Linked DNA regions of Homo sapiens: regions 1, 2 and 3 are each reported to be linked to region 4. The links are microRNA targets in miRTarBase. Many come from high-throughput screens and were not tested one by one. Region 4 holds a microRNA gene; each other region holds the end of a gene's coding sequence. Distances are from middle to middle.

The links. Region 4 holds the annotated microRNA hsa-miR-4420 (GUCACUGAUGUCUGUAGCUGAG, at 1,504-1,525, opposite strand). A microRNA usually pairs through its seed, bases 2 to 8, with sites in the 3' UTR of a target mRNA and lowers its output. Matches are read on the target gene's strand: a 7mer-m8 pairs with bases 2 to 8, a 7mer-A1 pairs with bases 2 to 7 and ends in A, and an 8mer does both.
Region 1: the mRNA of STYK1 is a reported target of hsa-miR-4420. Seed matches in the 3' UTR shown: 7mer-A1 at 2,081-2,087.
Region 2: miRTarBase lists ZNF644 as a target of hsa-miR-4420. Seed matches in the 3' UTR shown: 7mer-A1 at 1,933-1,939.
Region 3: the mRNA of ZNF543 is a reported target of hsa-miR-4420. Seed matches in the 3' UTR shown: 7mer-A1 at 2,508-2,514.

What each region holds. Positions count from the first base shown.
Region 1 is chr12:10,617,299-10,620,468 of GRCh38, forward strand. It overlaps STYK1 (serine/threonine/tyrosine kinase 1), which reads right to left. Exons shown (of 11, transcript NM_018423.3): 11 at 1,625-3,050. The coding sequence ends at 2,846. Among named protein-coding and RNA genes, the nearest start is that of MAGOHB, 5.3 kb to the left of the region's middle.
Region 2 is chr1:90,914,138-90,917,307 of GRCh38, reverse strand. It overlaps ZNF644 (zinc finger protein 644), which reads left to right. Exons shown (of 6, transcript NM_201269.3): 6 at 318-2,004. The coding sequence ends at 510. Among named protein-coding and RNA genes, the nearest start is that of LINC01763, 64 kb to the right of the region's middle.
Region 3 is chr19:57,328,835-57,332,004 of GRCh38, reverse strand. It overlaps ZNF543 (zinc finger protein 543), which reads right to left. Exons shown (of 4, transcript NM_213598.4): 4 at 1,235-3,170. The coding sequence ends at 2,740. Among named protein-coding and RNA genes, the nearest start is that of ZNF543, 9.9 kb to the right of the region's middle.
Region 4 is chr1:30,737,655-30,740,824 of GRCh38, forward strand. MIR4420 (microRNA 4420) reads right to left here and starts at 1,578; the gene lies at 1,502-1,578. It overlaps LAPTM5 (lysosomal protein transmembrane 5), which reads right to left. Exons shown (of 8, transcript NM_006762.3): 4 at 2,155-2,283; 5 at 1,286-1,408; 6 at 1-45. RefSeq lists an enhancer at 1,556-2,115.

The DNA of each region.
Region 1 (3,170 bases), not on the chromosome of region 4:
GTCTTCCACTGTATTTGCTACTTATTTATTTCAGTAAGAGTGTTAAAGCAAAATTTAAAAAAATTATTGCAACAGAGTTAAGATTAAGAAATCTTAATTAACTGACTTTTTTTGTTTTAAAATGCTAAAAAAAAACCCACTACTATTATTTGATTTTAATAACAGAATACCTAAATCTGGCATAAAAAAACATAGTGTGCTCCATAAGCATAATTTAAGAACTACTGGTTCAGACTATTCTATTTTAAACGACGTTACCAAGTTTCCCTTAGACACTGTATCTAGGTGGGTGTTTGCGTTGTTCCTAAGTGTTGGAATTTTTTTTTAACAATAAAGCATAGATTGGAAAAACAAGACTGGAAGAGAAGGCAATCAAAACAATACAACAAAATCTATCTAGAGTCAACCCGATTAAATGATAAATATTTTGATTCTTTTTTTCATTCATTAGCTTGGAAACACCTAGTTTGGCTGAAAGGTCAATGATGCCAGAAATATCATCCTCCTTCTGGAAGAAGCCTGGCCAAGTGAGAGAAAGACCCAGTTTTCTTAGAGTAAAAATTACTGTATCCAGTTTTCCGGGCCGGAAAAACAAATAAAATTGGGGGTAAAAAACTTAAATATCAATTGTCTGCTTCTTTCCCTCCTACTAAAAGAAATATGACAGTACAACAAAGCAACCTTCCATTTCACTGTGTTCCACTTTCCCTTAGCTCACCGTGCTGCAACCCATATGCTTTCTTGCAGTTCCTTGCCTCAGAATTTTCACGCACACATGTCCTCCTCCTGGGAGACTCTTCTTATTCGGCCTGGGTTACTTACCCATCCCTAAGGTCTCAGTTTATAGCCCATTTCTGTTCAGGGAAGTGTTCCTTTTAAACTCCCTTCTACTACCCTATGCTTTTTCTTTATAGCACTTAACACTTCGCACTTAACAGATACCCACACAAATAAATGTATAATGTGTCTCACCTTCTAGACTGTAATCAAAAGCTCCCTATTTCTTTTATCCTACACCTAGCCAAGTGTCTGGCACAGCAAGCCTTAACACTCAATATTTTTCAGTGATCAGATAAATAAGTAAATATTTGTAATTTTGACTTAACTGAACAGCTGAGAGGCAACAATGGGATTCCATAGGACTTTGTAATTTTGTGTGAAGCCACTCTTCTGCCCTTCTCCCTACTGCAACTTGCTACCCATTTAAATCCTGACTAGTCATTGTGGTATTCTTACAGCGGCAAGAATCATTATTCCTTTAGCTGACTCATTATGATTCCATCAGGATTCCAACTTCTACAACATTTTTAGCTGCCAGTCATTTTTCTTATGGCAGCCTTAGATGTCCCTTCCAGGGTACCCAAAGTGTTTTTTAAAATTGCAGACTACCATGTTCAACAGAATTGCCCTCATGATGATGTTTTCAATATTTTGTAATAGTAGGAGTCCACTATCATCATCCAAAAGCGTACAAAAATGATGACTTCATCATTGCACATGTATAATATCACTACTTGTGCCATATCATCATCTTTAGGCATGTCCTGCCTTGCAGTGTTAGCGACTGAGTTTCTCTTCTTGGTCACAGTAGATTTTAAATGAAAAATATATGAAAGGTCCTGGGTTAGGAAGGGCAAAAGAAAAGGAGAAACACGTTTATTGAGCGCATATGTGCCAGATAGTGTACAAATACATACTCAAAACGTATCAATCCTCAGAACAACCTTGTGAAATAGGTATTATCCCCATTTACACATAAAGAATCCCTTTTCTGACATTGTACATTATCTCTTGAATTTTTCTATTGGCATTAACTTTCACTTATTTACTTTTATCCTCCCTATGATATTTTTAGTAGTTATAAACCAGAAAAGCATATTTCCATTTAATAAATATTAATTTAATAAAATAAGTTTCACAGTATATCAACAGATGATTGAAAATTAGAAGCTGCTATCCTTCCATATCAGATTACATTCTTTTCTAGCCCTTGTTAAAGACTGAGCTACTAAGCCTTCTTGCTTGGTTTCTACATTTCCTATTTATTGTGCACACACACACACACACACACAGAATTCTTTTCACTGTTCTAACATTGACTCTCTAGGCTTAGTCTCCTTAGTCTAATCGGAACTAGGAAGCTAGCTTAATGAACAATACATGTTGAATGTTCTTAATCATGAAATGACTCCTCCACCTTCTAATTAAACGTAGTAACAAACAGAATTTACCTGTCTCAGAATCAGATAAAAGGGGACCATCTTTCTTTTATCTATACCTAAGGTGAAACTCAGAGGTTTTTCCGTTATAGTTCTCCTCCAACCCCACATGTAGGGCTCAGGACTGAAGAACTTTGTGTCCTACCACCTTTTCTTGAAGGAGGTGTTGGTCCATATCTGTAATCCTGAGCAAGAAGAACCTTAAATTTTCTTTCCCTTCAACTCTTTTATTGGATTTCTATTCCTTCATTTCATTCCAAATTTTCATCTAGATAAAAATGTGGTTCCAGAGGAAACTAGCCTCGGACGGGAGGGATGAGCTTATTTGTGCCATGCCCCAACAAATACTGCAGAGTTCTAAAACCTCCTTTGCACAGGTCCACCACTTCTACCCAGGATTTCTAGGACTGGGACAGCAGAAGTGAGACTGACAGTATGTCTTAGCTCAGGATGTGTAGAGTCCCATCCAGCATCATTTCAGATTTCCCGAGAAATGTGTAAAGGAAGATCAAGAATCCATGTCCCATTTCTCCCTTTGTGTCCCTGGGAAAGACCATTCTCTGTTCTTAGAGGAATTGATTCCAAGAACATATACTCATGCATGAATGTTTCTTGCCCGAGACTCTTCAAAGCATGCTATAGTTGTAGAAGAGGCTCTCCACTCTGATGCCGGCCACAGCTGCATACAGTTCAGGTACCACCAACTCTGGTACTTGTAACACAGCCTCGTCATCTGCAGTTTTAATGGCAGCTTCTAGGCGCAAGCGCAGCTCTCTAGGTGAGGGGCGGTCAGCCTCACGCCAGCGCCAGCAGGACTTCATGATACTGTACCTGAGAGGGAAACAAGAGAAACTGACTTCCTTGACAAGGCAAATGTATGGGGAGCATGTCTCCTCTCCTCACAAACTTTAACAAACAACTCTGCAATTCTTTAATTGTCTTCTGTTTGCC
Region 2 (3,170 bases), 60 Mb from region 4:
TGGGGAAGGGTCTTTTCTAAAGAATGACATATTTTGGAGTAATAGTTGTTGTTTCAAGTGAATTAAGATGTGTAGATGTTAATTTTAAAATAATAATGCTCCCACCTATACAAAGATTACTGGAGTTTATTATAGCTGTTAATAAACATATGAATTGGGAGTTTTGATGTTTTATTAAATCATTTGACTTTAGAAACTTTATCAATTGCTGTCTTTAAAATATGATAAAGTTTATTCCTTATGTTTTAGGATTTTGTGTGAATTAGTTTTAAAGAAAGAGAATTGGTCATGTTAAGAGAATTGTTATCTTTCTGTAGGTTTTGTGGCCTAGTCTTTCGAGGACCCTTGTCTGTTCAGGAAGACTGGATTAAGCACTTACAACGACATATTGTAAACGCTAATCTTCCACGGACTGGAGCTGGCATGGTGGAAGTCACGTCACTACTTAAAAAGCCTGCCTCCATTACAGAAACTTCATTTTCTCTACTAATGGCCGAAGCAGCTTCATAGAACCAGGAAACCTTTTAAATAGCCAGTTTGAATTGGATGTAAATTTGAAATTCTTTTTTTTTAAGCCACATTAAATTATCTGTTTATAAATACTAAAGCAGGAAAATGGGGGGAAAGTGAATTACAGTGACATCAGAGCAAATTGAATACTTAAAACAGTAAGTAGTCTATATATTTTATATAGGGTGGAAGATGTGTTTTTAAGGTTTATGAAGTTTTGTTGGTTAACTGTGTTCACTCAGTAAAAGAGCAGTACATGTAAGCAGCCATTAATAAACTGTTGCACATGGATACTTATAGACAGACTTATTGGACAATTATGTTTTTTGCAGTGTTACCAGAATCAAGGCTCTGTTTATTCCCCACAAGACTTGCATAGAAAAATAAGATATTATATTTTGTTTGTATGTATTTAGTGTTTTGTATAATACCAAGAACCGCTGACTAAATTTACTCAAATTAGGGCATTAAATATCATGTACTTCATAGTTTGAGACTGTTCACTCAAATAGGGCAGAGTACTATTCTATCTAGATGTGTAAGTGTTTTTTTTAAAATCACATGGAACGGTTTTTTTTATACTAAAAAGTGGAGGGAGATTTGTTTAAACAAGTATTTCTAAAAGAAATATGTACATAGTTCTGGAAATTATTTGTGGTAAGGAAATATTCTTTACTCCAGTTGCATTTCTCAGACAATAAAGTGGTGCATCCATGCTACCTCCTACTTTGTCAACAAAGATGCTATTTACCCTTTACATTTTTGTATCATAATAGATTTTAAAAATCTAATGTTCTTTATTGCAAGACATTCTTTTGTTAACAGGTTTGTTTCTTTTTAATGTTTTACCTAAAATTTGACATGCTTACAGGACAGGTTTGCCTCTTACTTTATTTAACATTGTAGAAATGTAATTAATAAACAATGCTCACTACACAGTTTAGAATAGACGTTCTCATTTATATTATCTTCCAAATTTGATCAGTTAGCAAAACTTAATACACCAATTAAAATATTTCTACATATGAGAATGTTTACAATTTAAATTTTAGAACTTGTTTTGGATGTGATTATATGTACGAAAATCGTGTAACACTATGCTCATGCTAAGAACCGACATAACAGAATTACTGAAATAAATGTGCTGTGAGGAATGGAAAATATGGTGCAGGTGTCTTGGTCATGATAAATTGTGATTCTTTTTAAAAATTTTTTCCAAAAACAATTAGGTATTTTAATCTGAAATCAGATTCCTTTACAAACAACAAGTTTTTGTATGCAAGCACCATTTTATTTCATGTAGTATGGCTAATACTATAGTTGAACCAAGGATATGCATTGATTCTTTGCTTCGTATGTAAATAAAGTTAAAAACAGTTAAAATAAGGAGTATTTTGGTAGAGTATATACATACCTCACTGCCAGTGAAATTGCTTTCCTATGGTATATCTCCTTACCAGAAAAATCTCTAAATAAAAAAAGGTTTAAAGAAAATTAAAATGTGAAACATTTCTTATTTTTATCATTGGTGGTAATAGTTCACTTCAGGTTGTGTTTCATTGGATTTAAATTGTTTATCCTTGCCAGGTTACTTGGATCACAGAGCATAGTTTTTCTAGAATCACCTCATTGGTCAATATAATGTATGTGAGAAAAATCATTTTCCCCCTTTCATGATTAATCAAACCTCTAAATTCAGAGCCATCTTATATGCAAAATTAGAAGGTTGGACTAGTTGGATCATTCCCAACCAAGGGTCTCCTGATCCTTAGGTTAATAGATAAGGGAATAGTACTTGTAAGTTATTTTCAATTTTACAAAAGTCCCGATAAAAACTATGTATTTGTCTATAGTGACAAAACTAACTAAAACATCCCATTTCTTTACTTTTGACTGAAAATATACCAAGTCTGTATATATTGGTTATCTCTTACTGAACAAGTTTCGTTGATAGTTATATGTCTTTGAATATATATTTTTAAATTGGAAGACATACTACATAGCAAGTGGAGTCCAGAAGTAAAAACCAAACAAACAAACAAAAATCATAGGAATCTTGTGGGAAGGCTAGTAATCACTAGAGCCCCTTTCCACTCTAATTCTTTTTTTTTTTCTTTAAAGACAGAGTTTTACTCTGTCACCCAGGCTGGAGTGCAATGGTGTGATCATATCTCACTGCAGACTCAACCTCTCAGGACTCAAGTGATCCTCCCACTTCAGCCTCCCAAGTAGCTGGAATTAAAAGCACATGTCATCACTCTTGGCTAGTTTTTGTATTTTTCGTAGAGACAGAGTTTTACCATGTTGCCCAGGCTGTGCTTGAACTCCTGGGCTCAAGAGATCCTTCCGCCTCCGCCTCTCAAAGTGTTGAGATTACAGGCATGAGCCACCACACCTGGCCTCCTAATTCTTACACTTCTATGATTTTGTCTTATCAGGCCAAATATCAACATGTGTGAATACAAGTAGAAGAATTAGTTTGACCACAAGTTTCGGAATCAAAACTACATTTAATTTTAAAATATGTTGAACTATATGTAAACAATTATTTCTCCTTCTAGTTATATAAAGAATTCAGTCATCAGAATAAAATATTTCACATCAGAAACAGTAGACTAGAGTGACTCCTGAAAAGTAAATTAAGCAAAGAGCATTTTTCA
Region 3 (3,170 bases), not on the chromosome of region 4:
ATTTTTAAAAAGAATAAAGAGTGAGGAATAAGTTTACCCTATTTTAAAATTTAGTAGATAGCAATAGTAATCAAAATAGAGTGGTATTGGCATAGGTTTAGGCTCGAAGACCAATGGAATAACATAGAGAACCAAGAAATAGACCAACATGAATATACTTAAATAATTTTTTGCTAAGGTGTAAAAGCAATTCAATAGAGGCAGAATAGTCTTTTCAAGAAATGGAGCTTAAAAAAATTCATGGGCAACAACAAAAGAAACTAAAGTTCATACTGTAATACAAAAATTAACTTAACATGAATCAGATCCAATGTAGAAGATAAAATTTGTAGGAGGAAATACGATAGAAAACCTGGTGAGGAGTTCTTAGACATGACATAAAAAGGACAAGGAGGGCCAGGCGTAGTGGCCACGCCTGTAATCCCAACACTTTGGAAGGTTGAGCCAGGCAGATCACAAGGTTAAGAGATGAAGACCATCCTGGCCAACATGGTGAAACCCCATCTCTACTAAAAATACAAAAATTAGCTGGGTGTGGTGGCACAAACCTGTAGTCCCAGCTACTTGGGAGGCTGAGGCAGGAAAATCACTTGAACCCGGAAGGTGGAGGCGGCTGCAGTGAGCCGAGATCTCACCACTGCACTCCAGCCTGGGCAACAGAGCGAGACTCCATCTCAATTAAAAAAAAAAAAGGACCAAGAGATGTCTTCAAAATAATGACATGAATTAATGCAGTACAAAATGGCTTTGCCTACAATAGAAAACTATACAAGTGTTCACTAAAAGGCTGTGAGCGCTGGGCGCAGTGGCTCACACCTGTAATCCCAGCACTTTGGGAGGCCGAGGCAGGTGGATCACCTGTCAGGAGTTCGAGATCAGCCTGACCAACATGCAGAAACCCCATCTCTATTAAAAATACAAAATTAGCTGGGCGTGGTGGCGCATGCCTGTAATCCCAGCTACTTGGGAGGCTGAAGAAGAATCGCTTGAACTCGGGAGGCAGAGGTTGCAGTGAGCCAAGACTGTGCCACTGAACTCCAGCCTGAGCAACAAGAGCAAAACTCTGTCTCCAAAAAAAAAAAAAAAAAAAAGGCTCTGAGGAGGGAAGTCCCACTTGGACACCCCTCTCTTCTCAGAAGAGAGCTAGTCTCTTTTCTCTTTCTTTTGCCTATTAAACCTCTGCTCCTAAACCAAGTAAGTAAATAAGTAAATAAATAAAAAAGGCTTTGAGGAGTTCAAAGTGAATACATGATTATTTTTACTTCTGTACAATATATTTAATATGAGGTAAAACTATCACATGGCTCAAAATCTAGTCTTAAAAATATAAAAAAGGAATTACAAAACGCTCTAAATGTGTAGCATTTTAATCAAGCCTAAGTCCATGGTGACAACTGTGAAAGTCACACATCCCTACATATATGCATGCCGGCTTGCCTGTTAAAATTCCAGTTAAAGTGAATTTTCACACACTCTTTAAAAAGATTAAAAATGACATTCCTTCTATGTTTGTTCTTCTGAGTTTATCATGATCTTTCAAAGGAATTCAGCTACATACTGTATTTTTGGGGGGGCCTTAATTTGACCTTTAGAAAACTGAGGTGGACCTAACTCAAAGGAGAGGTAAAGAAGCTGAGAAACCACAATCATAGGAAAAAACTAAGATTCCCAGGATTACTGTGGGCATGAACAATTACACTATCATCCCTATCCCAGGAAAACTTAAAAAAAAAAAAAAAAAGTAAATCCACATCAAGAAAAAGTATGTGTATTGGGTAAAGACACATGGTGAAACATTTTTTTAAACAAGCATCTGAAGTGGACAATGTGTCCAAACATATGTACATCCTTATCTCCTTATAAAAGTGTTTCATAACTCAAGCCTCCATATTTTTTATAAAGATGTATGCTTCTGCACCTCGAGAGTGGAGAACGTTGCAGGACTAAGCAAGTTTTCACAAAATGTTTTCAAGCCCTCGTTTGTATAACTGTTCTGACACTGGGCAGCAGTGAATGCATACACAGAAAAATAAAGGGGATGAGATCTTTCGTTTCTGAAACATTTCCCTCTCCCACATAAAATAACAAAGGGACGACAAAATTGCCATAGGCTTGTCAGACAAGTCTAAAAGAAGCTGTGGTTTCTTTCTCTTCCCTATATTTCCTCTTCCTTTGTTTAAATATCCCTGAGATGGCCGGGCGCGGTGGCTCACGCCTGTAATCCCAGCACTTTGGGAGGCTGAGGCGGGCGGATCACGAGGTCAGGAGATCGAGACCATCCCGGCTAAAACGGTGAAACCCCGTCTCTACTAAAAATACAAAAAATTAGCCAGGCGTAGTGGCGGGTGCCTGTAGTCCCAGCTACTTGGGAGGCTGAGGCAGGAGAATGGCGTGAACCCGGGAGGCGGAGCTTGCAGTGAGCCGAGATCCCGCCACTGCACTCCAGCCTGGGCGACAGAGCGAGACTCCGTCTCAAAAAAAAAAAAAAAATATCCCTGAGATAATATTTCACTGTAAACTAAGAAGAAAGATGTGGCTGAAAGTTTTCCTAAGTGCATAGCAACCACTGGGTCTCTCTCATGGGTGAATTCTCAGGTGGAGAATAAGACTCCAGGCTGGTTCAATTTCTAACTTGATTGTTTAGACGACAAATGATCATCTATTACACGTTTTCTCAAAGAGAGGATGCTTATGAAGTTTCTCTTCAGTGTGAATGGCCAGATGGTAAGATGTTCCCTTTCACCACAGATTTTCTTCAGTGGTGATATTCAAAAACTCTTTCCCTAATAAAAGTTCCTGGATGTTGACTGAAGTCTGTGCAGTCATAAAAGGTCTTCCCACATCTGTTACAATGGTAGGGTTTCTCCCAGTATGAATCCTTTGATGATGTGTGAGGGATGAGCCGCGATTAAAAGCCTTTCCACACTCACTGCATTCATACGGCTTCTCTCCAGTGTGAATGATGGAGTGTCGAATAAGGTTTGCGCTCCGGCAAAAGGCTTTCCCACACTGGATGCATTCATAGGGTTTCTCTCCAGTGTGAATCTGTTGGTGCCTCGTGAGGTGTGAGCTGCGGTTGAAGGCCTTTCCACACTCCACGCACTCATAGGGTTTCTCTCCAGTGTGGATGCTGAAGTGGCGAATGAGGTCTGCCCTATCACTAAAGGCTT
Region 4 (3,170 bases):
GATGAACTGGTTATGAGGCATATCCTCCTGGCTGGGGAGGTAATTCTGCAACAGATTTGGGGGCCACATCAATGTCTCTGGACATAAGGAATTCCAACAGCACCCACACATCCGGGAATAATGATCCCACCCTCCACACACACACGAGCACAGCGTGGCACAGCCGTCACCTTGGTCGACCGCCACAGCAGCCTTAGGAAGCAGGTGCTACCTTCAGCCCCATCCCACTGACGGGCAAACCAAGAAAAGCCAAGTGGCTACTATCTCCAGATCTGCTTCCCAGGCTGGCGCACCGGCCCATCCCCAGCTGGCAGGTGTCAGCTGCCCATGGGCCACACCTATGCTCTTCTCTACAAGATCATTTTGGCTGACAGGGACCACCTAATCCACTAATACCTGGGAGGTTACATTCCCTCCCCTAGGGGCAGCTTGAAACCAATGACTGATGCAGGGGAACTCGCCCTAGGTGAGACTGCCTCTGTGGTCATTTGCAAATATTACCACACATTCTTTGAGACGCCTCCCTTCTAAAGGTGGTGTTTATTTCCTCTCCCCTTGAGTGTGGGCTGGACTTAGCAACGCACTTCTAACTAACAGAATGTGGCAGAAGTGATAGAAGTCTTAAAAGACACTGCCTTTCCTCCTTGCTTATCTCTTACATCACTCCCGCAGGGGAAGCCAGCAGCCATGTCAGGAGAGCACTCAAGCAGCACTACTACAAGTCCACAGGATGAGGAATTAGGCAAAGAGCCCACGCCCTGTGAGTGAGCCACCAGGAGTTCATCCTTCAGATCTAATCAAGCCCTCAGTTGTCCACAGCCCCAGGTACCATCTCTGGTGCAGCCCCACCAGAGTCCCTGAGTCAGAAGAACCCAGCTAAGCCACTCCCAAGCTCCTGATCCTCAGAAGCTGTGTGAAATAATAAATGTTTATTGCTTTAAGCCATGATGCTTAGAGATAATTCATTAGACAACAATAAAAACTGATATTATGTCTGTGTTGCAATTCACATGCCAAAGCCCTCTCTGGGATCATGCAGGGCTGCTCCTACAGCCACATCTTTGCTTCTTTGCTTGGCTTCCTCCTTTTCTCGAACCTGCCTTCCTCACTCCTGACAAGTTTCTTCCTGAGAGGGCTCCCTCAATAAATCACCAGCACAAGAATCTTCCTCCCAAGCTCCAACTCCAGGGAACCTGGCCTAAACCACAGACACACAGAGACGTGAAGTAACCTGTTCAAGGCCACACAGCCAGCAAATGGGCATGGTTCCCTGCCCCAGACTCACCATGTGGTTCATGGACTTGAAGTTGAGATAGGTGGGCACTTCCATGTAGGAGCTGCAGAGGGTCAGGATGCTCAGGCAGAAGTCCAGCAGCTGCAGCGTCATCAGGGGGAACTTGGAGGAGCTCTGGGGAGGACAAATACAAGGAGGAGGAATGAGGAGCAGCAATTAAAGTCCCAGTTACTGAGCGGCACATAGTAGGCCCTCACTTGAGAGACCGTCTCAGCTACAGACATCAGTGACTCTCGTCCCCTGTGCACAGAGAGACATGAACACACAGATGTTCATACCAAGAGCTGGTGGCAGACCCAAGACTAGAACCAAGGTCTCCAGACTCCCGGGCCAGGGCCCTTCCATGATGTAGCCCCCCGGTCTCTTCAAGGACAACAGTTGGGGAGAGTGAGAAAAGCAGGTTTGGGAGACTGTGTCCTTGACTGGCAGCAGCCCTCAAGCCACCCCACAGTGGGCGCTCACTGGCATGAATCATCCTTCTCTTCCTTTCTTCAACTTGGTTCCAAAGAAGAAATAATACTGGGGGCTGGGGGCTAAAAAGCGCACATGTCCTTTCCTCAGGTGTCAATTCACTCCCAGCAGCACTGACTGAGTGCTGACCATGGGCTGCACCCCCAATGTGTGTGTTCCTCATGTAACCCTCATAAGGCAGGCTGATGAGATGTGATTGCAGGTACATTCCACAGAGGAAGAAACTTGGGGCAATGTGGAGGGACTCAGAGACTGGGTCAAGACACCAGCCAGGAAGAGGGCTCCTACCCTCCCCAGCCTGAGCACAGGGCCCGTGTCTGGTCCCCTCCCATCTCCCATGCCAGACCTGGGCTCTGCTGTCCGGTGAGAGGTGGGGGCTGGGTACTCACAGCACGGCTCCGGGAGGCCAACTTGAGGTAGGCGGGCAGCTCAATGTAGGAGCCCAGCAGGGTGAGCAGGCACAGGAGATAGTCCATGATTTGCAGGGACAGGAAGGGCAGCAGGTACTTCTCCCGGTTCTGAAAGGTAGGCCCAGCACCGTCAAGTGTCCCCTGCATGCAGCCAACACTCCGCCACCCAGCCTGATATCCTCATGCATCCCCTTCCCACCCTCTCCCAAACCTTCCCTGCCCTCCTCAGTTGAGGTCACCTCCCTCTGAGTGACACTCTGGGGACAGGGAGTGGATAAGACCCAGGCCCTGAATGAGAGGAGTCTTGGTGTCCCAGGAGACGTAAGGGAACCATCCCCATCTATCAGGGCTCAAAGAGCAGGATTTGACTCAATTTGCTCACAAGAACCCAGCAAGGAAGGGCTTTGTGCACTTTTTACAGAGGAGAGGGGACCAGAGAGGACTTGCTGGAGGTGGGGACACCAGGGCTAGATCGGGGAAGGAGACTAGGAGTGAACAGGAGGGAGGGGCGGGGCACTGGAGGCAGAAAGACCAACATGAGTGAAGGCCCGGAGGCAGCAGAGAGCCCCTCCCCCCCACCCCCCACTCCCCACCACGCCCCGCATACAATTGGACCTTCCTCCACCAGCCACTCCCAGGGGTCCAAAGTCACAGTAAGAGGCCCTGCCAGGAAGAGGCTGAAGTCCCTCTTCTTCAATTGAAAGCAAGTGACCACCATGACCAGTATTCATTCATATGCTCTCACAGCTGGGGACAAAATCACTGCAACAGTGGTTTCCTGGTGTCTCATGTGGTCGTCTAAAATCACTCAGGAGGCAACCAGAACAATCTTGACTGATCTCAGAGTCTTCAGGGACCACCTGCTCCATTTCTCCATTTCTCTAGCTGAACCCTTTGAGTTTCTGCACAAGCACCCACAGCCACCCTGCACAAGGCAAACGGCCTCCCCAGGCAGCATGGGTTCCAAGACAGAGTGAGTGTTAGCAAGGGGAGTG